4 separate regions of the Homo sapiens genome follow, and all the other regions are linked to region 1. The links come from fine-mapping of genetic effects on gene expression. A gene starts in region 1. Each other region holds a variant in brackets. All regions are shown on one strand. Distances are from middle to middle.

Region 1 (8,133 bases):
GGTTTCTGTAAAAAGCAGTCCCAGGTGCACCTGGCTAAGAAGGGGGATGGGGGAAGTCTATGTGGGAAGAGATCTGGCTCTTGGCAGCATTCATGCAGTCCTCTCACAAATATTCTTTCCGAAGCTGTTTCTGTTCCTGGCTGTATATTTGAGTGCTGAGTTAGTTCACCCAGTCGATGTGTGCACACTCATCTGGTGGCTCAAGAATCATGGGAAATTTTCATGTTCAAGAGAATTTTACAGTCTGGATGCTTGATGTGTACCAGGGCACGGTTTGGAGCCTGAAACATGGTGGTAGTGAGTGCCTTGGACTTGTGCTCTTGCCAAACGGTGGAGTCTAAGCCACCCTTAGGGCGTTCCAACCCAGAGCTGTCCTGATAAATTTTACTGGCCCGAGACAAGTACTCCCTATGAGTACTTGTCACAGGGAGTACTTGTGTCTGCCCCCAGCATATTCACGTTAAGTGGAAAGGAACACTTAAGGGCCACTCGAGAAGGGGAAAGAAAATGAGGAAGGCGACATGCAGCTGTGAGCAGGGTGAATGGAGAAGGAAGTGCTGATATGCATTGGCACTGGTGGGAGAGCCTCACAGGCACCTGGAAGCTGGTTAAAATGAGCATTAAGATTCTACATCTTCTATCAACTGATACTACATACCTCTTCCTGACTGCTTCTGTTGTGAGTCAGTGCTAAGCTGCTTGTCTCCATTCCCTTTCTCCAACCAGGGAAGCACCTCCCAAAGTCACTGCTCAGTTCTGGGCAGGACATTTCCTGTCTTCCAGGGTCTCAGAGCACACTCAGAGGGAACAATAGTGGTTGCCTCGTCTGGTTTCCTCCCTGAATCCCTCTGCTGTGGGGTTGTAGGGAGAAAATTAGGGCAGCATCTGCCTAATCATCTCTGGTTCCCCACTAGACCTGCCTGGGCCCACTGAAGTCACAAGGGTCCAGCACATATTAATTATTCAGAGCAAGGGCATGGGCGGGCTTTAGAGTTAGAGAGGTTGGCATGAAGGTATAGCACCATCAACCTATTGCTTTATTAGGTTTAGATATTTACCTCCTGGGTCTCTGGCTCTAAAATGCCCATTCCCATGTCTGGTCCTTGTGTATGAGTCATTGTGACAGCCCTGCCAATCACCTGGCCCAGTGTCTGCTACAGAAAGTGTGCTCTAGGCCGGGCGCGGTGGCTCACGCCTGTAATCCCAGCATTTTGGAAGGCCGAGGCGGGTGGATCACCTGAGGTCAGGAGTTTGAGACCAGCCTGACCAACATGGAAAAACCCTGTCTCTACTAAAAATATAAAATTAGCTGGGCGTGGTGGCGCATGCCTGTAATCCCAGCTACTCGGGAGGCTGAAGCAGGAGAATCGCTTGAACCCGGGAGGCGGAGGTTGCAGTGAGTCGAGATTGTGCCATTGCACTCCAGCCTGGGCAACACGAGCAAAACTCTGTCTAAAAAAAAGAAAAAGAAAGAAAGAAAGTGTGCTCCCAGGAGTCGAACCCTGAGTACTCTTCCTGTATTAGGGCCTGGATATGAAAGGTGAAGCTGGACACTACCTCTGTCCCAGTCAGGCCCATCCTGTACTCTGAACTGTAAATGGGCATGATGGCCAGAGACCTACTTTCCACATTTCACATCCCTCCCCTCAATCCTTACACTGAATGTTTACGGAGCAGCTAGTAAACACTGCCAGGTGCTGAAGATAAAATTAAGAGTGAGAGTGGATCCCTGCCTGCCAACTTCTCAGGTGGCGGAGCTCATAGCACAGGAGAGGCCAAAAGCTCACATTCCTCCTATCTCTTTTTTTCACTGCTTATCCTTTCACCACTGTGATCTTCCCCGTGTCCCTGCTTGGGGCTTGGCCCTGTTTCTCTGCTCTTTCCCAGCCTCCTACTTCCATGGATGATCATTCAATTCTATCCTAAAGGACCGAATCGAATTTCTTTAAAAATCTATTCAGCCAGTTTTATTACATCAGTCATTGTTTCACAATCGAGACTGATCCATGGTCAGAGATAAAATACACTGAACAATTTTTTTTCTTTTTTTTTTTTCTTTTTGAGATGGTGTTTTGCTCTTATTGCCCAGGCTGGAGCACAATGGCGTGATCTCGGCTCAGGCAACCTCTGCCTCCCAGGTTCAAGTGATTCTCCTGCCTCAGCCTCCCAAGTAGCTGGGATTACAGGCGCCCACCACCACACCTGGCTAATTTTGTATTTTTTGGAAAGACAGGGTTTCTCCATGTTGGTCAGCCTGGTCTTAACTCCTGACCTCAGGTGGTCTGCCCCCCTCAGCCTCCCAAAGTGCTGGGATTACAGGCATGAGCCACCACGCCCAACCTTACATTTAACAATTTGAAGAGTATTTTTTGACTCTTTGTGCAGCGACAACTTCTGATTTTCATCTCAGCATCTTCACTCTGGGATGATTTTACTCGCCAAACATTAATGAAGCCTCTACTCTGGGCCAGAACTTTTCTAGGCATTAGGGATAGACCAGATAGCAAAAGCAGTGTTTGACTTATATATTCTAAAATGGAAGCAGATGATGAGCAAAGTACTGTATATACATACGACATGGTGGCCGGTAGCACAATAAATGTTATGTAGATAAATGAAGCAGAGTAAAGGGTTACAGATTGGGGGCAGAGAACAGGGTGCTCTGATAGGTCCGGTGGTCAGAAAAGTTCTCTCTGAAAGCAGTAGGAGGAGTCAGGCAGCCAACTGGGATGACAGCCTTGCAAGGCAGAAGGAATAGAAGATGCAAAGGCTATGAAGCCAGAACTGCTTGATGGGTGTGAGAATCAGCAAGGAGGACAGTGATTAGAGCACAGCAGAAACTGGGAAGAGGCACAGGATAGAAGGAGGGGCCTTGTAGGCCTTGGCTGCAACTTTGCTCTTTATTCTCAGGTGAAACTGTTGGAGGATTTTGAGCAGGAGAGTGAAGGGATCTTTTTTTTTTTCTTTTGAAACGGAGTCTCGCTCTGTAGCCCAGGCTGGAGTGCAGTGGCGCTATCTCGGCTCACTGCAACCTCTGCCTCCAGGGTTCAAGCAATTCCCCTGCCTCAGCCTCCCGAGTAGCTGGGATTACGGGCATGCGCCACCACGCCCAGCTAATTTTTTGTATTTTTAGTAGAGACGGGTTTCACCCTGTTAGCCAGGATGGTCTCGATCTCCTGACCTCGTGATCCGCCCGCCTCGGCCTCCCAAAGTGCTGGGATTACAGGCGTGAGCCACCGCGCCCGGCCCTAATTTTTGTTTTAAAGGATTCCCGTGGCTACTCTATGGAGAATATACTATAGGAAGAAAAGAGTGAAAGCTAAGTGATTAGTTGCAGCAGTCTGGGTGAGAAAGAAAGGCTAGGAATCAGGGTGGCAGTGGCAGAAATGACAAGACGTGATTGAATTGGCAATATATTTGAAAGCAGAGCCAACAATTCATGTTGGCTCTAGAATCAGGGATCCATTCAAAGTAGAAAAACAAAATTATTTAAAAACACAAACATCTTAACAGTTCATTTTTAAGTACAGAATAATACCCAGTGGCCAACGGCACTAATAGCAAGACAAGAAATAGAGAATCAAAGATATGTGGGATGCCTGCAATTGACTATTGGATGCTGATTTTGCAGAACTTTTTTATATCTTGTTACTTAGGTTTTGTGTGTGTGTGTGTGTGTGTGTGTGTGTGTGTGTGTATACCATATTATTTCCCTACTAAAGAAGTCACTGTTTAAATACTACCTTTTTCATGAAAGGCAGGACCCCCTGAGGGTCTTCATGATTCTAAAAGGAAGTGTGACTCCCACAGGGCAGCCAGCAGTGTCAATACTTCTCTGAGTGAGATTTAAATAAGAAAGAAAATGTGTTAATAAAACATCAAGCCAAGAGAATCTAGTGGCCACAGACCCACGAAGGAACACTGAGTTGTGCAAGCTACCTAGGTAGAAGGGTGGCTAATCCTTTCAGTTTGAACAAATTTACCTTCTCTGAGACCGGACTCAGCGCTCGCCAAGTCCTCTGCTAACGCAGGCCCCACAACTAGGAGCTAGGGGAGCCTATCCCAGCCTTTAACTGCCCGCCGAGAGACCTACCACAAGCCGGTGGTTCAGCGACCCAGCGCATCCTTTTCCTGGCCACGCCCTCTTTGTCTACACCCTTCCCATCCCGGCCACGCCCCCACGCCGCCGCGGCCCCCCCACTCCCAGCCTAGCCACGCCCCTCCCCCGTCGCGCCGGCGCACCGTCCGTCCGAATGGCCTCGTGGGCGGAGCTTGCGTAGCCTCCCGGACCCCGGCGCACACCGCCCCCCGCCCCCCGCCCCTGGCCACCAAGCGCCTCCGTGGACACGCACTTCCTGCGAGGGCTCCGTGCGCACCTTGGCCGAGCCGAACCGAGCCGAGTCCTGTCCTTCCAGGCCGTTCGCAATGGTGGATGAGTTGGTGCTGCTGCTGCACGCGCTCCTGATGCGGCACCGCGCCCTGAGCATCGAGAACAGCCAGCTCATGGAACAGCTGCGGCTGCTGGTGTGCGAGAGGGCCAGCCTGCTGCGCCAGGTACGTCCGCCGAGCTGCCCGGTGCCCTTCCCCGAAACGTTTAATGGCGAGAGCTCCCGGCTCCCCGAGTTTATCGTGCAGACGGCGTCTTACATGCTCGTGAACGAGAACCGATTCTGCAACGACGCCATGAAGGTGGCATTCCTAATCAGCCTCCTCACCGGGGAAGCCGAGGAGTGGGTGGTGCCCTACATCGAGATGGATAGCCCCATCCTAGGTGATTACCGGGCCTTCCTCGATGAGATGAAACAGTGCTTTGGCTGGGATGACGACGAAGACGACGACGACGAAGAAGAGGAGGATGATTATTAGGCCCTCGACCCTCGGGCCTCGGGGGGGAGGGCCCTGCACGCCGCCACCCCCTCCCCGCAGCCCTCACCCCGCCAGGAGCCACTGCTCTCCCCCTTGCCCTCCGGTCCCCTTACCTACCCGCGCCCGTCTGCTCTCTCTCTTCATTTCTCCGTAGTGCTTGTCTTTGTTCCAGGAATAGCGCTCCAGTTACCTGCTGCTGGGGTCGGGGCTGGAGCCTCACTCACTCGGAAGTGCTTGGAAGTGTCATCTACCCTGGCCATCCCCGGGATCCCTCCCCTGCTAATCTGAACTGTGTCCTGAACCCCAGCTATTGGCCAGGCCCCTGTTACAAACTGCGCAGACCACCCGTAGCCCTGCTGCTGCCACCTGCCCTGCTGCCAGGCTTACATCTTCCCAGAGAACTATGCTGCCACTTCACATCCACTCACCACATCCCACCTACAGACTACCACCTTTCGAGATCAGGACCAACCTGGAAAATGCCAGAGTTGGCTATGCCTTTTCAGACATTGATTTGGACAGCTCACCAACCCCTGAAGGGGCCGTTCAGCCTGGTTAGTTTTCTACCTACTCCGAGTGTCCTCCCCTGCCCCACCAGATTGCTGCAGGGGCGCGGTGTGCCTGGCAGCCAAATTGTTGACACTTCTTTTTTCCTATGCACTGGTTTTACACAGCTGTCATTTTTCTTTCAAAATTGCAGCAGTCCCACAGATGTGTGCATTTGGACAAATAGTACTTAAAAACAAAACAAACAAGCACTCAGCCCAGCTCCTCAATACTACCTGGAAAAAGCATTGGCATTATTTTCAATAAATATCAAGCACTAAAAAAAGAAATGATTGTCTTTTAATGGTTAAGTGCTATCACTGGCCTCTACCACTGTCACTCTGACTACCATTATTCCCGTGGAAATCAGGGAATACAACCAATCCTAGTATTCCCCGCTGTCATCTCCAGGCTGCTGGGGACAGCTACCTCAGGGCTTTGTCAGGGTTCTGATGCTCCCTTCACCAACGCATTTCTTAAAGCCCTGGCAAAGGGTGTGTTCTCTGGGTCCTCCAGGGTGGCGTGGTTAAGGGTTGGCTGAGCAGACGGCAAAGAGAGCAGTATTAATAATTAGACCATAACAATAGGCGTAAACCTGGACATATATATGTAATGCTCCTAATTCTCTGAGCTTTTGGATTCCTTAACACTGTGCCAGGGAAGTTCTGCCCCTTAATCCTTATTGCCTATGTGCAGCTGTTGAGTTCAGACTCCAGAGAGCCAACATAGTAGATTGTCACTTTCAAACTCCAAATAGCCAACATGTCACTTTCAGGTGCTCCAGCTAACATTAAGTCCCGGATCCTGGGCAAGTGCACCCATAAAGATATAGCCTGATCTTAACAAACATTTCGTTCTCCTTGGACAGACATCCTTAGAATTCCCACTCATAGATGTGTCCCAGATTCCTCCCTATGGAAATTAGCAAGATGCTTGGTTATCTCTTAAATCAGACCTTGTACTGCTATCTAGGGGCTATGCTGAGATCTCTGGGCCTGGAGGGTTCAGAGCAGTGAAGGGGGTGGCTGCTGAGAAGAAGCTGCATACCTGTGTGAGGCCATTGCTCCAGGTTAAGTCATTGAAATGTTTAATGCAGAGCAGCTTGGTTGGGGATTTGAGAGGACTGCCTCTTAGAAAGGTTTAGGAGGATATGAGGGGTTCAGAGTTCTCTTTTATATCTGTCCAGATGTCCTCATTGTACCATGTCTGGAGCCAACTTGACTTTATAACCTTTAATTAATTTAGATAACACATTTCCGTACTGTTTAAGGCCTTTTGAGGCAAGATATTGTATTTGTACTGGTAAACCTCAGTGTTGATTAAATGAGATATGGGTCTTCATATTAATCACCTCATAGGTGCGGATTAAATGAGATCATACCCATGAAGCATTTAGAACTTTCCCTGCTACATGGTGAGCACTCAGCAAACCATGGGCTGTTACTCCTGGGCCAGGGAACAGAAGTCTCAGAAAGCAAGTCTCTGACTCTGAGCCTGGCTTTAGTAGGAAAATGTCAGCGTGAAGAGGAGCAGAGCAGGTTCAGGGAGAATGGAAATGAGAGCATGATAAGACCCCATTTACTTTTTGGAGTCTTATATGAAGCAAGAAACAAAGCTGTTTTACGTGGTGGACAGGCAAAGTTCAGGGTAGGAGTTATATCTCACCCCTAGGATAGCTGTTTCTGGAGGGTGGGGACAGGGTTGCGTATGACTTAATAAAAGAGGCTGAGGCTTGGGTGGAAATGAGATCTGGGGCTCTTCAGGGAGCTGCCGCCTCCAAATCTGAATCAAGGAGACAGCTGGTTATTTAGAATTCATTGATCACTTCTCCCAGTCTCCTTGGAAAATATACAAAACCCCTTGGAAGAGAGAGATTATATTTGAGACATAATATGTGTGAGGCCAGATAATTACACTTTCTTCCTAACTAGAAAGGCCTTGAATTGGGGATAAATGTGGAAAAGTGAGCAAGATCTAAAAGGTAAAGGATCCAGTGAGACCAAAAGTCATTTATTCCAAACTGATTATGGCCCAGTTATGCTGAGTGGAGTTACAGAAACATCTTTGAATAAAATGTGATCTCTGCCTTCATAGCGAGTCCAGTCTGCTGCTTTTACTGTGCCCTGGGTCAGAACTTTGATGATTAGTTACAGGAAAGGGCCAGGAAGAGAATCTGGGCTGTGATTAGATCTGGGAATGACCTTTCTGGGGTGGAAGTTGAGGACATATGAGTAGGTGTTCTGTGGAGGAAGGGAGGTTCAGTAAGGATGCCATGCCAAGGCAGCATCTGAATGGCATCTGGGAGAACTAGGCCAGGGAGCTTCTGTGATCTGAAGTGTACATTTCCTGAGTATGTGTGCATGTGCACATGAGCTTGCTGTGACCCAGTATGTGTGTGCTCTGTGTGTGTGTGTGTTAAGTGATGTCCTTCTTACATCATGGACAAACAGGTTATGCTGTGAGATGCAGAAAAGGGATTCTGGTTACTTTGGGGGCAGATTCTGCAATAAAAGCGCAGATACTGGCAAGGGCTCCACCACCCAGGGAGGAATTCATGATAATGGCATAAAGCATGGCAAAAAAGAAGGAAGAAGTAGAAGTATGTCTAAGGATAAAAGTGCCACTTTGATCAAAACTATTAAAAATAGGTAGGAATGCTGAATAAATATGAACTTAGACCCTGAATTCTCATTTTGGGCGTAATAGACTTGAAATGGCCGC
Region 2 (8,133 bases), 180 kb after region 1:
GATCTCACCACATCACACCTAACCCTTCTCACCACCTTGCAGTTCACATTCCATGGAAAAAAGCTCCTCATACTTAAGAGTGTTTTACTTTCCTTTTCCCAAGTCGTGGCGATTTTGACTATTCACACTTGCGGATATCAACACATTTCTAAAGCATGCTTATCTTGATTAAACACTGCTGAGGTTATTAAAACAGTAACATAAATATTTAAGATGCAGTGTACATTTTGTTTTAAAATTTGGCTTTTCAATCATTTCATTACATGCAATGCTTTCCTGCCGTTTACTTACTCCTACATCTACTATCTTCTTTTGTATTGTGCTTTGTGTTTTACAGAACATTTACGCTTTATAAAGCATATATTTCTAACCTAGGAAAATATCAAATGGAAAGGGGATGGGAATACCTTTGATATGTCCATTCAGCAGAACTATGTGCTGCCGGGTACAGTTGCGTGAACATATACACATCTCCACTTCCTGTGAGATAAAATTTTAAGAAGAAAATTTTCTTTAGGAATCAGTCCTCCCCCAGGCCTTATTTACAATGTCTGGCTTACTGTCAACCTGTGGGTCTGTCCACCAACCCTACAGGACCTCATATCCCTCCCTTCTCAAATGCCTACCTCTTCCCTTCCCTTCACCCCCCACCATCAGAAAACAGGCAGAGATATACACAGCCATCAGCTTCTCAAACTTTATTTTCATTGCCGAAGTTTGAGGGATGTAGCTTCTTGCTACTTTTTAGGTCTTTCAGTCGTTATTTCTATGAATTCCTCCTCCTCCATTTGGTCGGGGTTGATTCTGTTCTCTCGGGCGTGGTCATTCAGCAGTTCCTCTGGAGATGTTCTTTTCACGTTCCTCCTGTAGCGAACCACTAGTATGGTCGAGGACTCAGATGTTTTCATTTTTTTAGGAGCAGGTTGCGGGTCTGAGTCCCCAGTTGGGGTCTCCGGCATCTGTTAAGAAAACAGGGAGAGGCCAGGAGGACATTATTTTGGGTGAACAGGATAGAGACTGGATAGCAAGGGGGCTTCATGAGAAGAAGGAATGCAGGTTGAGGAAGGGGTTTGATCCAGAGAAGAAGAAGGTTGAAGCACAGAGTAGGGATCTATGGGGAAGAAGAAGAGGAGCGTGGGTAGGGTCACCTGTGAGTCCAAACTGCACCATTTTGTCAGTTCTTTGCTATTTTGCAGACCTTGGTCAAAGTGAAACATCCCATGGGGGTTCAGGCCGTGAGAAACATCCTGCCTAACCACCTGTCCGCAAGGCGGACAAAGGCCCAACTGAAGAAACATCCCTATCATATCTTGCTTGGCAGCGTTCTAAGGAACACCACAATGATATTCCACCAGAAAAAGGGCCAAACCACCTGATCATAAGAACATCTTATCAATATCCTGCCGGGCAGCAAGCCATACTGCCCAGGCCCCTCCCACCCCTACCTACAAGCACCCCAGGTTGTAAGCGGCGGTGGGCTCTGGCATTAAGCGGGCCCCCCACTTCCACAATGGTCTGCAATATTCCTGTGTTGTTGTTTGAGCCGCCCCCGCTCTGTGTGTCTTTCTTTCACCCTCGCCTTCACTTCAGAACCTAACAATCTTACCGTCTTGTTGGCCTCATTGGCCTCGTTGGCCTCGTTGGATTCACAGGGGACGCTCCTCTTCAGCCTGCGGACACTGGATTGTTGGCCCATTGTATATATTGGTTCTTCGATGTCTACAGTAGGTTTTTGGAGCTTTTGAATCTTCGCAGTGGCCCAGAGCTCTTGCCCTCCCTATGCATACCCTCCTGGTGACAAGGCAAAGCCACACCCTTGAGCTTTGTTTGATCATACAGGCAGTGTCCCAGCCAATGGCAGCCCTAGGGTGGCTTCGACGTCACAAAGCCCCACTGCTGACCACTCCCTGGGCTTGCGGGCGAGGGGTGACAGGGGTGTAGAGCAAACCAAATGCTGTTGTTGTTTCAGCATCCCCTGAAGATGCATCCCAAACCGATCTGCCGCCGCTCCTCATTTCTCCATGTTTAATGTTCACGGTTCACATGGAAGTCAGAGGATGATTCCTTCAAGCCCTTCCCCACAGCCATTCCTATTAAGTGATTCATTCTTTTGTCTTCCAGCCCTCACCATGACTTAGTATTTTCGATGTCTCACCTCAAATCCCCCACGCTAGTGTGGCTACATTTATTTATTGGCGGAGATGTGAATTATCCCATTTCCCTCCTACAGTTCCTTCACATGCACCTCGAAGACCATTTACTTTTGGGCTACTGCCAGGCAAATTTCAACCCATGTTCTTTTACCCAATGTCCATGTAGTTCTTTTAAGTTTCCTATCTCCAATCTGAAATAATGGCCTTCAGTCTGTCAAAACTTTAGTGAATAAACATTCTTTACCGTGTATCCTAGTCTTGTTTCAAATCAGGGGTGTATATTTTTTTCTTTTTTTCAAATGGAGTTTCACTGTTGTTGCCCAGGCTGGAGTGCAGTGGCATGATCTCAGCTCACTGCAACCTCTGCCTCCTGGGTTTAAGTGATTCTCTGGCTCAGCCTCCTGAGTAGCTGGGATTACAGGCCTGTGCCACCACGCCCGGCTAATTTTTGTATTTTTAGGAGAGACGGGGTCTCACCATCTTGGCCAAGCTGGTCTTGAACTCCTGACCTCGTGATCCACCTGCCTTGGCCTCCAAAGTGCTGGGATTACAGGCGTGAGCCACCACACCCAGCCAGGACGGCCATTATTAAAACCACCATTGACAAGTAAATTTTGGTTACTTCTGTAGCATACAAGAATTTAACATAAAAGTTATAATTAATAACATACACAAGTTATTTCAGAAGTATAAGAGTTTCCCATAATTTTGGAGCACATATCAATGACATTTCTATAAATACAGCCCAAAGAAAGTCAAACACCATTTTATATTTGATGATGCTTCTTGTATGATTTTTATACCAAATAAGACCAATATGTCTCTTTTGGACTTCAGAGGACTCATATCAAAAAATTAATGAGGAATGAAGTTAGAATTTGACTTTGGAAAGTTCGTCAAAGATAAAAAGTTTAAAATGCTTGATATCACGAAATAGGGTCATGGGTCATTGTAAAATAAGTCATTCATTTAACCAAAGCAGTAACTCAAATGTTTCAAAAAAAAAAAAAGGTGAAAATCTTTATTCTTTGAGAGAGGAGGCTTAATATCCCAAACAATAAGCCCTAATTAAAAACAGGATGCGGCAAATTAAGTTTGTTTTTTTGAAATTGTATAATAAAAGTTTAATCATCTTGAGTATAAAATATAATTTCTATAAACCTTGTAACCTTCATCATTTTGCATGAAGGAGTGAGTTAATGCTCCAAGAAAGCCTTGTTAAACTGACACAGCAACCTAGATACTGGTTTTGCTTTAGTGTGCCTTTGATATTAATGGTTAATTCCTAGAGAAACTGAGCTACTTTTCTCTTAATATCAGCCCTTACAATCTCACATGCCCACCTCTTCCACGATAGTCCTTGGGCCTTGAGGAGTTGAATAGTTTTAATTTCTGGCCCTGCATCTCATGAACGCAGTTTACTTTGATTAGCATCTTCTACTGGGCCTGAAAATGAGGCTGTAATTGCTGTCAGTGTTTAAGATATAGCAGAACTTGGTGTCCTTTTTAGACCCAGAAGTCAAAGCCCTATAACTCAATGGCACAAGGACTTTAAAAGCACATACAGAAAGTTACACAGATGGAAGAAAACACTTTTTTAGACCTTGAAGAAAAAATTTTTGGCCTGTCATAGTGGCTCATGCCTGTAATCCTAGCACTTTGGGAGGCTGAAGCAGGTGGATCACTTGAGGTCAGAAGTTCGAGACCAGCCTGGCCAACACGGTGAAACCCTGTCTCTACTACAAATACAAAAATTAGCCGGGCGTGGTGGCAGGAGAATTGCTTGAACCTGGAAGGGGGAGGTTGCAGTGAGCCAAGATTGTGCCACTGCACTCTCAGCCTGGCTGACAGAGTGAGACCCCACCTCAAGAAAAGAAAAAAGAAATAGAAAAAAAAACATTTTTAGCATGAGGCCACAACAAACAGAACACAAGAGAAAAAAAGAAGAAACTTATATGAGCTGAAAATGAGTTGAAAGAGAGAGTTATTATTTTCACCTTTTAAAAGAGGAGAGTAAACCGAAAATGGTGAGATGTGATAAAAGTTAAACTTTGGGTTTAAAGAATTAAAATCTTTTAATTTATTAAGAGTAAATCAACTCCTTAAGAAAATTTTATTGTTCTGATGAATTTTTTTAGTGTTTTTTTTAATATCATAAGCTAAATCTGGAAAGACTATTATAAATAATTTCCCTTTAATTATAGACAACTTTATACAAATCATTTATGACAGCTTGGACTTTCTGTTTTATCCCTTCCTCTTTCTTTATTCCTTTGAGATACAGTCTTCCTCCGTCGCCCAGGCTAGAGTCGTGCAGTGGCGCCATCTCGGCTCCCTGCAACCTCTGCCTCCCATGTACAAGCAATTCTCCTGCCTCAGCCTCCGGAGTAGCTGGGACTACAGGCACGTGCCACCACACCTGGCTAATTTTTGTATTTTTAGTAGAGACAGGGATTTGCCACGTTGGCCAGGCTGGTCTCGACCTCCTGACCTCAGGTGATCCATCCACCTCGGCCTCCCAAAATGCTGGAATTAACAAGCATGAGCCACCATGCCTAGGCTTCCTTTTTCTTAAATAACCAGTTATTTTATTTTAGAACAAAAATTTACCATACAAGATTCTTGCTCAGATAAAATTATTTTCCTTTTAAC[T/C]TTTTGTGCCAAAAATGCCTGTTCATAACTTCCTTCACATTGTTTTTATTCACTGATTACCTAATTTCATAAATAACTTTTAGATAAGCTTCGAATTAGACAAAAAGTATTTTCCTTTAAGATCACATTTCTTTTTTACAGAAAAATGTTTTCCTATAATTAAAAAAATTGGAAATGACCCAGACGTGTAATAAATATCTACTATTTAGCTTAATATAACTTTGGATTTTAAATTATATGACAAGATATTCTACAAGAACTTATTCTGTTACATTTGTGTAATTAATTAATTTTCTAATAGTTTACCCAGATTACTTATGAAAACTGTAATAGTTACCATTTAAAGTTATGTCCTTGTTAACCATTTTTATAACCTGTGAATTTCAGGTTGTCCTGAGTAAGAACATTAAGGTTAGATAAAGGGTCTTTTTTTGTTTATTTGTTTGTTTGTTTTTGTTTTTTTGGCAATAACTCAGGATTTAGCTATTTTCATTAACCAAACAATATTAAATTCCTTACTTACTAAATTTTACATAAACAAAGATAATTCTTATTTGAGCTGCATTCATAGCTTTAGAACCCTTATGCCAAATGTTGACATCTAGCAGAGATAAATAATGTATGTTGAGAATTCCAAAGCCATTTCTAATTCAATTTCACTAAAATTTTTAAAACCAGCTTGTTTATTGAAGATTTGCTTAAGTCACATGAACTTGAAAAAGCATTTGGCTTAAAGTCTATTTTTCTGAAAAGCATTAGATTTAAGTGCCTTTGTTAAGCCAATTAATTAGAGCTCTTTTCTACATTTTTAGTAGTGAAATGTCATATCCATGACACATAAATACATAGATGTATTAGACATGTAGATAGAAGTAGATCTTATAAATTCCTAAGGCCTTTATTTTTTCCTTGTATTTTAGATTTACAATTTCTTCATAACCTATTTTATTGCCCTAGGCAATTGTCAGCTAGATAGCCCTAAATGTGCATATTAAAGGAACCCTTAGGTAAAAAAAATCAGATAGTGAAATTTGCTTCTCAAAGCACAGAGAGAAAGAGTCTGGTGATGTTAGAAGGAGATTGAAGATGGATGCCAAATCAAACACAAAATTGTAGAAATATATTATAGGATTGTATAAGGAGACCAGTTGTATTTAGATAGGGACTACCTGTCTTTTAACTGGATCTCTGAGCTCTGGGCAGAGCCCACACTGAATCCTAGTTCTCCAAAAAGGGAGAATTACTATGAGGCTACACCAAGTGATGCTTTTACAGTGTCCTTTTTTTTTTTTTTAACAAAGACATTTCTAAGTGTTCAAGCTACTTTCTTCCTTAAAAATCCAAGAATAAACTAATAACAGTTTTAGTCAAAAAATCAAGTAACACAATACAAAAGCAAGCAGCTTAAGATCTGAGATGAACTTGTGTGTTTACACTCTTGGGAAAAATAGAGGTTTCTCCCCAAAAGGGAGTGTGGCATCTTCTCCATTTTCTTTAAGGAATGCAGGCAATTATAAACTATTTTACGTCCCTCATGCAACAGAGGGTAGCAAAATAAAGGAGAGACAGCAGAAGTAGATGAAGAAAACAGAATGTCATCGTCTGAGAAGAAAAAAAAACTTTTGCTCAAAAAAAGACAAGGTCCTAGGAGAGAAGATGTAGAAAGTAGTAAAGTTTTTCTTCAAAATTCATCTTGGTTTAAAAATAAAATAATAGACACTATAAATAATAGCTCCTTACTCTAAAGCCTCCTCTCAACTACTAGTTCTTACACTTGAGCCCAGTTAGTTGCTTTGGCTTACTCAGGCATGTCTGGACAGGCCCAGGCAAGTCTTAGCTCATAGCTTATGCCCCTTCCTTTTTTGAAATGTTAATTGCTTCCTTAAACCTTTAGTAAGCAACTTCTTTTTCTTCTTTGTTCTCCCTTGCACTTACCTGTTTAGGAAAGTTTTAGGTTATTAGCAGATTTGGTATCAGTTGAAGACTGTGGGGTCCAGCTCCAGCCAATGGATGCAGGACAGAGCAGTAAGGCTGACCCAAATACGTAAATGATAAATATGTCTGCTTTTCCTTTGTTCAAGTGTGCTGTCACGATTGTTCGATCTGCGAGGGGCACCCTTTCTGCAGAAAGTAAAGATTGCCTTGCTGAGAGATCCTTTGTCTTTTCTTCACGACACCGATTATCTGTTTCTAACAGAGGAAAAAATAAAGGCCTTTTAATACAAATGCACACATGCACACACACACACATCTCAGATGTGAGCTTTTAATTAAGCTGACTTTTAACCCTTGAGCTCCTTTAAAAAAATCTTTCTGAATCTCATTACCATATTTTAGCTAGGAAAAATTGCTGATGTTTCAAAAGAAACAAGTATCAAACCAGAAATGGCTTGATTTAGGAAGCAAACCCAGGCTGTTGTGGAAAAAAAAGAAGGCAGAACCTTAGCTATGAAACTGCAGCATGGGGCAACAGCGTTGCTCTTTCAATTTGGCCTGGATAGCAAAAAAGTGGCCTTGCTATGTACATAAAGCCCCTTAAGTACTCAAAATCAAAAATCTTTATTGTTTTTTCTTTTGCTGAGCATTTTTCCTCCCAAGCCCTCCCCACCTTTTGTGGAAATTTAGCCACTTCAGAGGCCTTGTTCCTCATAATTTGGAACTTTCCTTTAGATTTGATCAAGTTGGATAGTTTCCCAATGAAGAAAGAAAGACCAAAACAACAAAAACAGAAACAAACAACGGCAAAAAAAAAAAAAAAAAAAAAAAGTTAAGCAAAAACACAAAATATCACAAAATTTATATGATTACTGAGCACTCTAATGGTAAGGAGAAATTAAGACCAGCTTGTTGTTAATCTTAACTTTAGACAAGACAAAACCCCTATTGAGCTACTTACCTAGTGATGGGTCTCAGGCTGAAGACTGCTGTCTATTACCCTAGAAGCAGGAAAAAACTCAGATTCATCTTCCGTGCTGGGAGCAAGGTCAAACTCATAAGGGAATTACCTGCCTTCCATTGTGATGGAAGCAGGAGAACTTGCCTTCCTTGTTGAAAGCAGGTAAATCTTCAGAAAAGGAGTTGTGCAGCAAAATAAAGTTTAGATTGCAACCAAATTTTTGGAGATCAGGGATTCTTTGGAGGGGTGGCTTTCAGGCCTCAGCAAATTGTCCTATTGGTTTTAACCATGAAGATAGCTCAAGCTGGTACCAAGTACCAGTAGAAGATTTGTGAAAGGTCAGGGGCACCTACACTCAGAATCCCTCTGTGGTTACCCAAATGTGAACCCCAAATATCTGAGACAGGTCTCAGTCAATTTTGAAAATTAATT
Region 3 (8,133 bases), 580 kb after region 1:
ATTAGGTATTTCTCCTAACGCTATCCCTCCCCCCTCCCCCCACCCCACGACAGGCCCCCGTGTGTGATGTTCCCCACCCTGTGTCCAAGTGTTCTCATTGTTCAATTCCCACCTATGATTTAACTCAGAACTTTGAACACAATATACATTGGTTTATCAATTCCATGAAGATGTTGAGAAATAGGCTAAAACTCTACTGTTGCTCTATAGTTCATTTGCATTTTATATTTCAGTGAATTTAAATCATTTCCTTTATTTTGGTGTTAAGCTTTAATGTTTTAAAATAAGTATATCTTTTGTACTTTTCTTGGTTGATATTTGATAAGCATGCATTTTACTAGTTCTTTATAATGTTTAAACATGTCATACTTTCTACTACTTTCTCTCTCCCATGTATTTAAATTCCTTTTTCTTTTTCTCTTATTTTAGATTCAGGGGTTATACGTTCAAGTTGGTTTCATGGGTATATGGCATGATGCTGAAGTTTGGGCTTCTTATGATCCCATTGCCCAAGGATTTCAGCTTTAAATAGGGAAAAACGTCTAATGCTTCAAATTATTCTGCAGCAGAAAGCTCTGTGTTTGAAAAAATTGGTAAAGATCCAGGCAGAGGCCATATGACCACCTGGCAGAAGTACTGTTAGAGAGTACTCTTCCTATTTGTTTGATCACATCATCTCAAATTCTGTTCTGAAGACTCCTTCAAAAGAGAATTCATGCCTTATTCTGCATAGCATCCTCATAGTGCCTACCACCTAGACTCTGCTCCAGAAACAAGCAGGAAACAACATACTCTAAGGAGGCATCATAGGGGCAGTAAGCTAAGGATTCCAAACATGGATGCCATGCAGAGTTCCTGAGAGACTCAGGGAGAAGAATGAATTCTTCTGTGCCCACACTGATGATGTTTTAAAACAGGCCCAAACAGACATAGAGAAGTTGATGGGCCTTCCTTCATGTCAGTGGTGCAGAGTTTGAGCATGACAGCTTTAGCCTGTCTAAAAGACCAGCAGGGCCAGGGCCATCAAGGGTCTATTTACTTGAGGGGCTGAGTAATCTCTTTTAAAAAGAACTCTTCAATTAGAAGGAGGGCTGGGGTGTTTAAATTTGGTACACGTTCAGTAGGTCAGTTTGGAAAAGGAGAGGAGAGAATTTTCTAAGAATATCACTGTATCTGTCTCTCAGATTGTCTCCAAGCCTAGCCTTCACAGACCTGAGTCCTGCAGCAATGGGACCACCATAACAGGAGAAGAAAAAGTGGGGGCAGGAGAAGAGGAGGAGATAGGTGGAGAAGAAGGAACCCTAAAGTGTCTGGAACACAAAAGAGAGGCATCAGTGTGTGTACAGAAACAAGCCAGTCCTCATCTGGAGTGCAGAAGCAAAGACGCCATTACAGCTTTGGTGGCCTCAATGATGGCCTTGTTGCAGTGGCCCAATGGAGCACTGAATCATTTCAGCTATTGAGGAGTCACAACAGTAGCTGGACCAGGACAGGACAGAAGAAAATGGTAGATTACAATTCCTGGAATATTGTAAAAGAAATCTGATGAAGACTGTGGTCCCTTAAAAAATGGGTGGAAATTAAGCCAAATAAATATGATACCATTTTCATTATTGGTAAACAAGTCTTTAGTCTCAGCCATGGTGGTCAGACAGACATGGGATGCTTCAGCAAAGATTCTGCATTTATAAGACAAAAAGGTTACAAGGCTGTCTGTACCCAGGAAACAAATCATACAAAGTACACAGTCAAAGGCCTCGGGGGAAAAAGAAAGAAAGTGGAACGTTGCCATCGATTTCAGCATCTTAGCAGCACACTGCTAAGTGATCTTTCTTCCCAGTCCTTCTAAAGACAGAGAGCCATAAGTGCAAGGTTTATGGAGTGGCCAGAGAGAATGTGGTGTCACCATGGTATCAGGCCACAGGAGACAAAGCTGACTGAATGGTGGTCCAGCATAGCTAATGATGTTGCTAGGAAACCCATATCTGCCACAAATCTACCCACTCTCCTTTCTGTGCATCATTAACTCACTACAAATGACATGGCAGCATCACCCATAAAGTTGAAAGGTTGCCCACCACAAGGCAAATCAGGAAAATCTCCTGCAGCCAAGGAAGGAAGCAGCCTACTGCTGTTCTCTACAGACTGGCCATACAACCAGCTGGCCTTCAAGGGAGCTCACCCATCCCTCTGTGACACCCAATCACCCAGGTTGCATACCAGAGATGCTACCAGACCTGATGTAGTCCAGATTAGCCAGCCTACACCACAAATAGAGTAGGAGTCATCAGACTAGTTACAATGAGAGCCCGGTTGCAACCTAGGGAACGAATAGCTATGGGGAAAATCGGAAGTCATCAGGTGGGATTGCTGGGGGCAAATGGCAGCAGGAAATGCAGACTGAGAGCGATTTGTATGTCCCTGTAATACTTAATGAGCACAAATTTCTGCAACATGGTGTTCTGGTCACTGAGGATCAGAGTTAAGTTAGAAACCATGCAGAACATCTAGGAGTTCATTATAGAGTAGGGAGAAAGACCTACAAATAAATAACTAGAAACCAATGTGTGCAATGCTGTAGCAGAGAGATGAAGCAAATCCTGTAAGGAGACCAACAAAGAAAATCCACCAACAGCCCAGGAGTGGCACAGGCCTCTTTCTTTGCTCATTAGGTGTCGGGGGCTATGGAAGTCAGCACAACTTACGCACAGAGTCAGGGCAGACTAGGAAGAATGGCTAACTCTGTCTGCTTGTGGCAAAGAGCAAGGAAAGGGGAGAGAGACATTAGCAGTTGGTCTTGAGGGATGAGGAGAATTTCACCAGACACTGAAGTGAGGTGGACCCAGGGATGTAGAGCAGTTGCTCCGTCTAGGCCAGTGCTGTCCGGTCAAAAAGAACGTAAGCTACAAATACAAGCCACATATATATTCTGAAATTTTCCAGTAATTGCACTGAAAAAAAGTAAAAAGAATGGATGAAATTAATAGTATATTTTCTTTAACCCAATATATAAAACAAATCATTTCAACATGTAATCAATATAAACGAATTAAGTTGATTCTTGAACAACACAAGGGTTAAGGGGCCCTGGTCCCCCAC[G/A]CAGTCAAAAATCTGCATAAAACTTGACTCCATCAAACATAACTACTACTAGTTTACTTTTTGTATGTTGTATGTATTATATTTTGATGCTGTATTCTTACAATAATATAAGACAGAGAAAATGTCATTAAGAAAATCATAAGGAAGAGAAAATATGTTTACTATTCATTAAGTGGGAGGAAAACAAAGGGTTCTTCTTGCTGTCTCAGGGGTGGCAGAGGTGGGAGAAAAACCACATGCAATTGAACTTCAAACCCATGTAGTTCAATGGTCAACTGTATATAGATAGAGATAGAGAAGCAGGTGTAGGGCATCCCAACACTTTTTTTACAGGTGGCTATAAGAAGATGGGGCCAGGAAAGGAGATTAAGGAAAAGGAGTCAATGAGGTAGGAAGAAAATCCAGAATCATATCAAATGTTACCAGGTCGCCCTGTAAGGAAAAAAAAAAAGAGAAGAGACCAATAGATTTAGCAATGTACAAGTTGCTGATGACCTTGACCACAGTACTGCCTTCTTCTTCTTCTTCTTCTTCTCCTTCTCCTTCTTCTTCTTTTCTTCTTCTTCTTCCTCTTCCTCTTCCTCTTCCTCTTCTTCTTCTTCTTTCTGGGATACATGTGCAGAACGTGCAGGTTTGTTACATAGGTATACATGTGCCATGGTGGTTTCTTGCACCCATCAACTCATCATCTACATTAGGTATTTCTCCTAATGCTATCCCTCCCCTTGCCCCCAACGCCCCGACAGGCCCCAGTGTGTGGTGTTCCCCTCCTGACAACAGTACTTTCATTGGAGTGGTAGGAATGAATGCCTCACTGGAGTGGGTTTAAGGGAAAAGGGGAGAAGAAGAATTGTGGAGGATTAATTTAAATAGCTCTCTTAAGGTGTTTTGCTATAAAGAAAGTTAAGGAAGAGGATGATGAGCATGATGTTGAAGCCCTGAAGAGTAGGGGCAGAGGGAATAATCTAGAGGCTGTTTGAAGATTTGGTGGTGGGAGAGGGGGGACATTTTTAGCTAATGCTTGTTATTAAGGAAGCACTCACACTTGTTAATGAAAGTGACCAAGATAGGGGAGTAAAATGTCCAACTGCTATTTGTACTTTATATCACTAGATGGTTTGAGGCCTGGATAACATTATTTTGATAAAGAAAATAATAACCACAATGATCAATAACAATAACATTCATGATAAACAATAACATCCAGCATTGGAGTGACAACTACATTATGTGCTAAAGTCTATGCTAAGCATTGTATGGCATTATGGCTTTGATTCTTACAACTATATGAGCTAAGCACTATTTTGTCTCTATGTGGCAAATAAGAAATCTGAAGTGAAAAAAGTTTAAGTAACTTTCCCAAGGATGTACACTGATAAAGTTAGTATTTAAACCAGGTGTTTTGATTCCAGATCCCTTGTGAGAATTGAGAGTGAGGGGTGTTAGCATCAGTGAAGGAAATACTTCTTGCCCTTAAAGTGATTTCTTATCTAGGTCAGCAGGGCACATGGTGCAGACATTCCTCTCTCTCTCCCAACTTGCTGAAATTATAGGCACAAAATGGGTATGGCAGATCCTCAAACATTCTAGGATTCCTCCCTTCAGGTCCGATTGAGATATTCCCCAGCTCCTTGGAAGAAACTAGTAGAATACAGACTCTACTTCATGCACTTGGTTGTATTTTGTGGTTAATCCCCTATATTTCCCTGAGGATTAATAATTTTCAGTGAAGCAATGGTTGAAATCAATTCACAAGAAGCTTTAAGGGAAAAAACTCTTTTGGTAGAAGCAGGTAACAGTGAAAAACTGTTCCTATTTTCTGGCAGAGTAGTTGCCAATATGAAATGAGTTGAAATCTCCATCTACTACCACAGAGAAAAAAAGAGTAGGATGTTCTTTTATAATGACTAATGCAGGCACCTGCACATGAAGCAACAGTGAAAGGTGACCCTGGTAGTGCTTAATTAGTAGACACCAGGACAAGCATGGCTACTGCAGAGTTAAGTTCTGACTTGAAAGAAGTTTCATCAGATCTCCTCCTGCTCCTTCAAACAACTCCAATAACCAAGCTGCAGTGGGAAAGGAAGAGCAATAAAAACAGTAAACATAAAACATACTCAAGTCCACACCTTCGGCTCTGGGTCTGATCACCTAAGAGTTACCAAAGAAAAGCACCATTGGCCGAGGAAAATTTTCCAAAGCATCTCTCTCCTCATCCCCCCCGCAAGAGAAGTTAATAGAGTCACCACTACTGGGCTGCAAACAACATTCTAGGATACGTTAACAATCTTGATATGCTGGAAGGAATGCCAGGTTATAAGTCCAAAGACCTCAGTTTGGATCCCTACTCTGCTACTTACTAGCTGTGCGACTGTGGAAAAGTACTTAACCACTCTGATCCTCTTGTAACATAGAGATAATAATAGTGCCTATCACCTAGGAGAGATATCAAGATCAAATGAGATGACTTATTAGAAGGTGTTTTATATACCAGAAAGCAATGTTCAATATATAAATTATCCTATATGATCCCAAAATTTAGGTTTTTTACTATGGTTACTAACTTTATAGTATCTGCAGGGGCCTATATTCTTACACCAAAAAATCATCATAACCTCTGAATCAAAGCCCAGTGAAGAATTTTGACCTTGGACCTTATGGCTCAAACCCAAGCACTCTAGCCATCTCACACATTTTAGAAACTGTCTAAAAAATACTGATTTATAAGAAATCTCACAGATGGAGATACCTCAACAGATCATCTGCTCCCACATAAGAACCTTCAGGCAGATTCAGGATTATAATTTCCATTCTACAAAGAGGCCATTTATCATAGAGGTTAAGAGAGTAGAAAACATAAACTGTCTTACTGTTAACAGTAATATTGGTAATGTTATTTTTTAATTACCTTATGCAAATTATAGGATAAGCACATAACTATGCTCATATCAAAAGGAACCAAGATTGTCAGCATAAAACAAAAATAAACGTAAAATCAAAGAAATTCAGTAAAAATCCTGAAATCTTATGCAAATGGGAAATATCAAAATGAAATCATAATCTATTTTTCTCTTTTTTTTTTTTTTTTTTTTTTTTTTTTTTGAGACAGAGTCTCGCTCTGTCGCCCAGTCTGGAGTGCAGTGGCGTGATCTTGGCTCGCTGCAAATTCCGCCTCCCGGGTTCAAGCCATTCTCCTGCCTCAGCCTCCCGAGTAGCTGGGACCACAGGTGCCCGCCACCGCACCTGGCTAATTTTTTGTATTTTTAGTAGAGACGGGGTTTCACCATGTTAGCCAGGATGGTCCTGATCTCCTGACCTCGTGATCCGCCCACCTCGGCCTCCCAAAGTGCTGGGATTACAGGCGTGAGCCACCACGCCTGGCCTATTTTTCTCTTTCTATAAAGTACATATTTTCTAGATCTTCCCACCAACAAGCCTAGAAGCAGTGACCACTCAGTAGCAATGAGCAACCGGAGCACCTAGAAGCTGCTGAGACACTAAGTCATCACAATGAACATTCACAAATAAAAGATAAGAAGCATTTATTCTGCTTCTGTACAAACAATACTTCAGGGTAACCAAAGTTGATGAGGGAAAGTTCTTTATAGAACCATTGCAACTAATAAAGAGAAAAGGAATGAAAAAACTCTGAAAACCACCATTTTGCAACTCTCAATGAAATAATAGATCTAGGAAACAATCACTAATTGATGATAAAACTATCAAGATAAAAGTTGATGGGGAAAACTTTGTAATGGCAGGATCAGACTGACATCACTTGAACCTACTGAGAAAAGTTTACATCACTTTTTAGTGATGATAACCAGACATTATGCGGTTCATGATGTGATACAATAGGAAATATGCAGCACTATCTACAAAGGAGTCTAAAAATGTGCATGCACAGGCACAAACACACACATATAAATACCTCTTAATTTAATCAATCATCTAGACTTAGCCAGGAGTATAAAAAAATACGGGAAAAAAGAGGAACAAATTAAACCAAAAAGAAGTAATTGATCAAATCGGGAATGTGGGACATATCACAGCTCAAATGAACTATTTTCTTAAGTAATAAATGGCAGGGGTAGGGACCATTATATATTCAGAGAAACATAGTGACATAATTTCCAAATGTAGTGAGTTGATCTTGCTTGAATTCTGATTTGAACAAACCAATGGTCAAAAGAAAAACTGAAGGCCACCAGAAGAAATTTAATATGAACTGGACATTAGATGATATTATGAAATTACTGTGAAATGTTAGACATTATAACGACATTTTTGTTATATATATAGGAAATATGCATTGAAGTATTTGAAAATAGAATGACATGATGTTTGAAATTTGCTCTACATGCATACAAATATTTGGAAGACATGGTGAGTAGATAAAATAGCAGTATGCTATTAATTACTGAAGCTGAATGACGAGTGTTTAGTGATTCATTATAGTCTTCTTTTTATCTATGCTTGAAAATTTCATAATTACAAGTTAAAAAAAAAAAACAAAAATAAGATGAGCATACATAAGTTCTTGAGCCAGACAGCCTGGCTCTGCCACTCACTGGCCAAGTGAGAATGAACATATCACTCACCCTCTCTCTGCTTCCTTTTCCTTATATGCAAAATTGGGATAGTAACAGTGCTATAATATAGGGTTGTTGTGAGGGTTAAATGAATGTATACATGCAAAGTGCTTAGGGTACTTAAGTGTTAGTATGTGTTAGCTATCATCATCATCATCATCATCATCATCATCATTACCATCACCACCACCACTACTACCGCCAATGAAGACTTGGAAGTAATAACCCTCTAAAGGCAGGTTACTAAATCAGGGGTCTGCAAACTTTTCCTGTAAAGGGCCAGACGGCAAACATTTTAGACTTTTTCAGGCCATATGACCTCTGTTGCAATTACTCAACTCTGCGCATGGAGCACAAAAGCAGCAATAGACAATTGGCTGTGTTTCAGTAAAGGTTATTTACAAAAACAGCCAGCAGGCCATATTTTGCCCCCAGGCTGTAG
Region 4 (8,133 bases), 240 kb after region 1:
TTAGAATTGATTTCTGGTTGGTTTATTCTGCAGTGGTCTGAGAAGATACTTGGTATAATTTCAAATTTTTAAAAATTCATTAAGACTTGTTTTGTGGCCTAACGTATGGTCTGTCTTGGAGAGTGTTCCGTGAGCTGATAAGAAGAATGTATATTCTGCAGTTGCTGAGTAGGATGTTCTATAATGGTCTGTTAGGTCCATTCTATCTAAAGTTCAATTTCAGTGCAGTGTTTCTTTGTTGATATATTAGACTTTAACATGTACTCTGAAATGCTAAAAAGAATTGAGGAATCTGGGTTTACACTTAGAAGTTCTTTTAATTAAGCAGAGTTCAGTCTGTTCAGCTTGAGTTGATCCAACATTAATCAAAGGCTGCCTTGCAAGGGATTGATAAAATACACAGGATTTATGGAATAGACTAAGAGTTTTAAATTACATTTAAAAGTGAGAAAAATAACTACTTTTTAAGTGGTTTTTAGATAAATTAATTTAAAACCAAGTAACTGCAAATAGCATTTCCTGCGCACAAAAGGTCCCCCTCAGGGATCAAAAAATTTACACTGATGCAACCGAGTCATTCTCTCAAAGACCATCTCAATCACACTCTCAGGAACTACTGTGCATTTCCTATACCAAAAACCAGACTAATAATGGCAGAAATTGAAGGCCGGCCACTCAAAATACCATTCTCAACGCTATCTCCCTGGCTCATCTCCCATTATAGAGAACCTAAAGCTCAAAACATTACTTTCCTTGCCTTCTTCACAGCAAGTGATAACCTGTGACTCAGATCTGGCCAAGAAGACCTAAGTGGAAGTTTTTGGGTACCCGCTGCTTTCTTGAGGCATATACAAGAGGAGAGCTACTGATAGCGGTTCTTCTCCACTTCTTTCTGCCTAGGAAAGATTATGTGATGTTGGGATGTGCAGCAACTATTTTGTGATCCTTAGGTGGGCAGCACAAAATTGACAGAGCAACCTGCAAAGAATGGCAGAGAAGAAAAATAATAAGAGTCTGGGTCATTGAGCTTCCAGACCAACCCTGGGGCCATCTGTGTCTGGATTTTCTTACTACTAAATAGTAAATATCCTTTTTTTGAGGAACTACTGGACTTTTGTTACTTTCAGGCAAAAGCTTGCATAATGGATATACAAGAGAAGGTCAACTGGAGTAGGATTGCCCAATAGGATCAACACAGATAAGAAGCAGAGAGCATTTCGAGGCCCTTTCCTCAAAAACCTCATATAACAGCAGCATAAGCCGAGTTCCCAACAACATTATCACCGTGCTCAAAAGCCTAAAAGAAAGTGCAAAAAGATGAAGAAGGGAGAAAAAATGTGAGATGTTTTAAATCTGAATGTGGATAGACTATTAATTTGTATTAATTAATACATCACAGATTTGGACTGAGTTTACCTGGAAGCAGCTAAATTAAAGATTTTATTCCTGTTGCTATGGTGGTGGTCATTGTTGTTTTCTACTGCTAATAAGGTAGACTTGGAAAAAAAATGCTTTCACTAACATAAAAATAAAGTAAGTTATGTTTTAGCATATTTGAGTCTGTGACCGTGGTATTCACACCTTTGTATCTCTTCTTTAGCTATTCAGATATTAGGAGGCTGCCTAGCATCAGACAGATTGACAGATGAATATGCTTACAGAATATATCAACCATCTCACATTAAATTAAAACATATATTGAGTTCCTTCTATGTGCCTAGTTCTGCTCAGGCTTTGTATTTCTAGTTTGGTACTTTTAAAATATTTAAACAAAACAGTTGACTTCGCAACTCTGGGCAATACAAACCACAAAAGCTGAACGTGAATCTGAACTAGAGGCCAGTTTCCTAAGGCTATCAGAAGGCTGAAATCTCATAAAAGAAATCAAAAGAAGGTAGAAAACAGTCTTTCTCTCTTTTCCATTAGTGGAATTGTAAAGGTTTTACTTCTTTGCATATTGATTTCTCCTATGATTTGCTAAATGCCTAAATAGAAAATCTAATGTCTTTTTTCATGATCCAGCTGAACCCAATAAACTTTGTTGCCTTTGTTCTATGATACATCCTTGGATTATAAGAAAAACATTATAAATGGAAAAGATATTTCAGATGTTGCTGGGGTGGGATGCCTGGAAAACCAACTCAGCCAAACCTGATTTACCAAAGCGGGGAGGAAGATAAAAGGCCCACAAAGTCCCACCCAATAAGGCTTTATTGTTTTTAAATTTAGTTAAAAGCCAAGACTCTGGCTTATTCATTCCCATCGATATCATCAACTGAGAAAGGAAGCATGAAAGCTTATCTATTGATTTTGCTTTGGCTTTATAAGTAAACTGCACACTCTTGTTATCTAAGCATTTCCAAAACTACAGGGTAAGCAAAGTAGACTTTAAACCATTTTGCATTTGGATTCAGTTCACTCATTGACTTTGATAATAGCACATTGTATGTTGGTTTCTGCCAAAAATTCATTCAAGAATAGGTCAATAAATAGAGTAGATGGAGTGATGAGTGGATGCATAGTGTGTACAAGTACAGAAATGGCTATTTCCAATTGTCAAGAATTTTGTATAGCCTGACAAGGGTTAATTTACTTCAACCATTAATTTAACTCTTACCAATTGATTGTCTTCTTACCAGATACCACTTCCACTCCATGCGGCTCATCCTTTGCAGGAACTCTCTCAATTCCTCCATGCTTCCTGTCTACTCCTCAACTAACAGTGTACCTTTCCTTTTCTTTTTTCTTTTTGAAACGAAGTTTCACTCCTGTTGCCCAGGCTGGAGTGCAATGGCATGATCTCGGCTCACCACAACCTCCACCTCCTGGGTTCAAGCGATTCTCTTGCCTCAGCCTCCTGGGATTACAGGCATGTGCCACCACATCCGGCTAATTTTGTATTTTTAGTAGAGACGGGGTTTCTCCATGTTGGTTAGGCTGGTCTTGAACTCCCGACCTCAGGTGATCCGCCCGCCTGGGCCTCCCAAAGTGCTGGGATTACAGGCATGAGCCACCACGCCCAGCCTAAGCCACTGTGCCCAGCCCCTTTTCTTCTGTAGGAAAGAATATTACCTTGCTTTCCACTGCACAGCCTCGTACATGCATCATGCTAATTTTCAGTGCAGCTGTATCAACAATTCCTTGAGGTGACTGTCAGCATCTG[T/G]AAGCCCTCATCAGGGACATGTACCCTCATGGAAAAAAGCAATGTTTTTAAACAAATAGCACCTTTCAACTTTCTTGTAATAATTGTCCCTACATCATGTTTATCTTTCAAATCAGCCTTTAGCATTTTAAAGTATACATAAACTATATGGCAAAGTTATCTTTTACTCTATCCTAGGGATTAAATGGGGTAAAGTGGGGAGGATTCGCTGATATTAAATATATATCTCTGTGTGTGTGTGTGTGTGTGTGTGTGTGTGTGTGTGTATACACACATATATTCAGATATATATTCCACACCATATGTATCTATAAACATATATAGATATCCTTAGAAAAATTAGTAAATTAATTAAGATGTAGAGCTATATAGTACTTTATAGATAATGAATATCTTTTTTTTTTTTTTTTTTGACGGAGTCTTGCTCTGTCACCCAGGCTGGAGTGCACTGGCATGATCTCGGCTCACTGCAACCTCTGCCTCCTGGGTTCAGGCCATTCTCCTGCCTCAGCCTCTCCAGTAGCTGGGATTACAGGTGCGCACCACCATGCCCAGCTAATTTTTTGTATTTTTAGTACAGAAGGGGTTTCACCATGTTGGCCAGGCTCGTCTCAAACTCCTGAACTCGTGATCCACCCACCTCGGCCTCCCAAAGTGATGGGATTACAGGTGTGAGCCACCACACCTGGCCATAAACATCTTTTTTTGTTTGTTTTATTTATTTTTTATTTTTATTTATTCATTCACTCGAGAATATTTATTGATAATCTACTATGTGTCAGGCATTTTTATTGGCACATGAGATAAATAAGTAAACAACAAAACATTCAATGATCCTTTTTCTTGTGAAAACCAGCAAAGGGAAACATAACATTTGTAAAAATCATTATAAATTACTAAGTCGAAGTTTATATCTATTGTCCTGGGATAATTTAATGGCACCCGCTTTCATTTTCAAAAATATCCCAGTTTTTGCAAAATGTTATATGATCATTCTATAAATAAGTATGTTTAAACAATGAGTAGTGCTATGGAAAGGAAAACAGAAAAAGTACAGCAGGATAAGGGAGTCTGAAATGCAGAAAAGAGTAGTTGCCATTTTAAATAGAATAGTCACTGTAAACTTCATTGACAGGGTAGCATTTGAGCAGAGTCTTGAAAGAAGTATGAGTGTGGGCTATGCAGCTCGCTGCATAAAGACTATTCCTGACAGAGGCAACAGCGAGCAACAATCTTGGAGGTGAAATTGTGCCTAGTGTGGTTGAGGAAGAATACCAAGAAAACCTGCAAGGCTAGAGCAAGAGCATCTGAGAGGACCAGATGAGGAGGTCAGAGTGGTAATGTGGGCAGGCACATCATGGGGGGACATGTAAACATGAAGATTTGGACTTTAATTCCAAGTGAATGAATGAATTCACTGGGGGAAAAAGGAGAGTAATAAGTTCCACTAATATCTGACTTGCGTTTAGCAGGATCACTCTGGTTGTTCCATTCAGAATGGCGTTCAGGGCTGGAGTGGCAAGGACAGAGGGACACCAGTCAGGCTGCTATTGCAATAATCCAGGAAAGAAGTGGTCATGGTAGCAGTGAAGATGGGGGGCAAATTGTTGGATTCTGGATATATTTTGAAGGAAGAGGCAACATTTTAATTGGATTTTCAGAAGTCTGAGAGGTGTAAAAAAAAAAAAGCTATTTTTAACATTCCCATTTTACAGATGAAAAATTGGAACTCAGAGAGGATGTAACTTGCTTAGGTTTGTACAACTAATTGAATGGAAGTAAAAGCATAAAACCCAAGTCTCCTATTAGCCTGGGACTTTCTCTACATTGTACAGTGATTCCCAAACATATCACATACTATACAGTAAGTGTGAACTCTCCTAATACCGAGATTCGCAGGAGTGTTTTCCAACAGAAAAAGGGAAGAACACCTTTATCAGCAATAGCTTGGGGTTTCACCTAGGATACATACTAAAGGTTTTGTTCACTCTCAGGAGTGACACTTTTGACTGAAATGATTAAATACATAAATGAAATGATTAAATAAATAACTGTAATGATTAAATGATGATTTGATTAAATGACCTGTGCACATGGACATGGCTTAATACCCTCTAAAGAGGCATTACTCTATGATGGGAAAAGGGAAGGAATAGATAGACTTGGGTTTAAATCCTACCCTGATATGTATTAGCCATGAACTTAGCTCAAGCTGCCTCTTGAATTGGTTTTGAACACTAAATAAAATATAGTCTAAAAAACACACCAGGTATGTTCTTACAGGCTAATTCTACCACCTAGAATTTTCCTCCCTCAGATCTTCATCTGAATGGCTCCTTCACCTCAATCAATATTTAATCAAATGGCATCTCCAGAGATAGACCTTCACTGAACATCCAGCTTCATTTTCTTCAGAGCAATTGTATTAGTCCATGTTCACACTGCTATCAAGAGCTACCTGAGACTGGGTAATTTATAAAGAAAAGAGATTTAGTTGACTCACAGTTCCACATGGCTGGGGAGGCCTCAGGAAACTTATAATTATGGCAGAAGGTGAAGGGGGAAGCAAGGTATGACTTACGTGGCGGCAGGAGACAGAACGAGTGAGGGGAAACTGCCAAACACTTTTAAACCATCAGATCTCATGAGAACTCACTCACTATCATGAGAACAGCAGATGGGAAACTGCCCCCAAGATCCAATCCCTTTCCACCAGAGCCCTCCCTCGACATGTGGCGATTACAATTCTAGATGAGATTTGGTGGGGGCTGGACACAGAACCAAACCATATTAGCATTTATCACTATAGAAAATCTAATTAATTCCTTGTTATATATTTATAGTCTCTCTCACCAACTAAAATGTGAACTCTTATGAAGGCAGGGATTTTTTTCTTTTTTCTTCTTTTGTCATTTTGTGTCCCCAGTACCTAGATTAGTTCCCAATACACAGTAGTCTCCCAGAACATTTGATGAATAAATGACTGTTGTGTCCCTGTCCTGCTCCCTTCCTAGATTAGGACACATTAGTCTATTTGTAGTGTTCTGTGTTCTTTCCCACTTCAAGGCCTTTGAATCTAGCGTTCTCTCTACCTGGCATACTCTGACTCCCACTCTGTCTAGTGGACCTCTACTCATTTTTCCAGTCTTAGCCCAAATGGTCACTTCCTTAGAGACGTCTTCCATGATCTCAGACTAGGTCAGTTCTGCCTATCTTGAGCTCTAAGAGCACAATGTGCTTTTCCTTCATAGCACTTGCTGCAGTTTACAATTATTTATTTACTAGGATGATTAATTATTTAAGATCTGTCTCCTGAACTGGAATGTAAGCTCTCTGAGTTCATTGCTGTTTATATCCAGCACCTAAAACATGATAAGACACTCAATAAGTATTTACTAAATGGATAAAGAAAGGAATCCACACATGTGCAGGAAACTCAGCACATATTATAGAACTTCTGCATGTTTATTGAAAACTCCAAAAATTGAGTTTGGAGAAAAGGGATCCATTTCCAGGAAAAGGTAAATTGTGAAAATATAAATAGGGGCCATGGCTTCCCATTGCACAAGCAGGGAAGATTTACTGACATGAAGGCAAATGGTTTCCAGTCACGTGACTAAGTAAGTAATACAAAGGGCATTTCAAAATATTGACCACACAGCCAATTTCCTCTAAAATTATGTTTTTCTGTTGATCCCATTTTCTTTCAAAAAATTCAGCAGGAGGGCTTGCACTCTGTGTGTAACTTCCTATAAACAAGAACGTGGTTCATTGGCTTCAATTCTGAAAAATGTTACAATTTCAATGCGAAGCTGTCAAGTGAATAGAACAGCTAACTAGATAGCTGTGCCTCCGGCACAAGAACAAACTCCGTTAAGAATTGAAATCCTCGATTCGTGAGTCTCCTGCATGGTGTCTTCTGCACTTCAGTAGGAGAGGATATGAGGAACTACATGGTTCATTTGATATTTATATGTGCACGTGTCATTTGTAAGTATACTTGACATTTATGATTAAAATCTGGCCCTTGGAACGACACTTACTTAACAATGAGAGATATTGAGAGAGGGGAGCATGTTTCCTAAGTAAAGAAGGAGGAGTAACCACAATTAAGCTTCATAGTTCAAAAGCTTGCTTTCTTTAGGAGGACTGAGCCTAGTGTTTGCTGGATTCTGCCCTCCATGCCCCAAAATGATGAAAAGAACATGTATCTATTTTGTCTTGGTTAGGTAATTTGTTGCTGTTTGTCAGAAAATAAGAACGAAAACTCTTGGATGATTTATACCCATGCACATAAGGCAACTTTTGCCAAATCATTCTATGTCCTTTAAGCATCCTAGGCACCCTAATCAATGACCCACCCATCCCCCAATTTTTTTCCCCTTTCTCAAAGGATCCTGTGGCATGCTAGCAGAGTGCAGAACAGCAGGGAGACAAAATAAAGGCCTTAAGAACTCCAATATTGTTGAAAACATATAGGAAACAATGGTTTTGACAGCTGTTCCCATCTGCAACCAGATTGGGTGACTGACCTTCTTTATCACTCTAATTTTTATACCTTATTATCAAAATTGCACTGCCCACAGGCCAAATATGGTCCTCCAGGTGTTTTGTCAATAAAGTTTATTGTAACACAGCCATGCCCATTCATTTACACAGTGTCTATGGCTGCTTTTATGCTACAGCAACAGAGTTGAGTGGTTACAGCAGAGACTATCTGTCCCACAAAGCCTAAAATATTTGCTATCTGGCCTTTTACAGAAAACTTTTACTGACCCCTGCCTTAGGCTCTGATTACCTGACAATTGAAAAAAATCTGGAAAGATTAAAATATTAAATCGTGTTTATAAACAAAATATAGTAAGGTCTTCTCTATGTTGGTTTGTCTGTCAACCAAAGCCTTCAACTTTTAAGCAATAATTTGTTTTCATTTTTGCTTCAAATCTTTATAAAATTTAGCCAGATTGTCC

Evidence for each region. PIP is the estimated chance that this variant, and not a neighbour inherited with it, causes the effect.
Region 2: its variant is fine-mapped to the expression of LDOC1 in whole blood (TOPMed, PIP 0.93).
Region 3: its variant is fine-mapped to the expression of LDOC1 in lung (GTEx, PIP 0.96).
Region 4: its variant is fine-mapped to the expression of LDOC1 in whole blood (TOPMed, PIP 0.97).

What each region holds. Positions count from the first base shown.
Region 1 is chrX:141,173,314-141,181,446 of GRCh38, reverse strand. It overlaps LDOC1 (LDOC1 regulator of NFKB signaling), which reads left to right and starts at 4,318. Exons shown (of 1, transcript NM_012317.4): 1 at 4,318-8,133. The coding sequence starts at 4,426. The coding sequence ends at 4,866. RefSeq lists an enhancer at 4,754-5,253.
Region 2 is chrX:140,996,257-141,004,389 of GRCh38, reverse strand. SPANXB1 (SPANX family member B1) reads right to left here and starts at 1,796. Exons shown (of 2, transcript NM_032461.4): 1 at 1,607-1,796; 2 at 684-959. The coding sequence starts at 1,696. The coding sequence ends at 738. The variant T/C (reference allele first, on the strand shown) is at 4,806.
Region 3 is chrX:140,593,806-140,601,938 of GRCh38, reverse strand. No RefSeq gene overlaps it. Among named protein-coding and RNA genes, the nearest start is that of SOX3, 93 kb to the right of the region's middle. The variant G/A (reference allele first, on the strand shown) is at 3,100.
Region 4 is chrX:140,937,940-140,946,072 of GRCh38, reverse strand. No RefSeq gene overlaps it. Among named protein-coding and RNA genes, the nearest start is that of MIR320D2, 16 kb to the right of the region's middle. The variant T/G (reference allele first, on the strand shown) is at 3,164.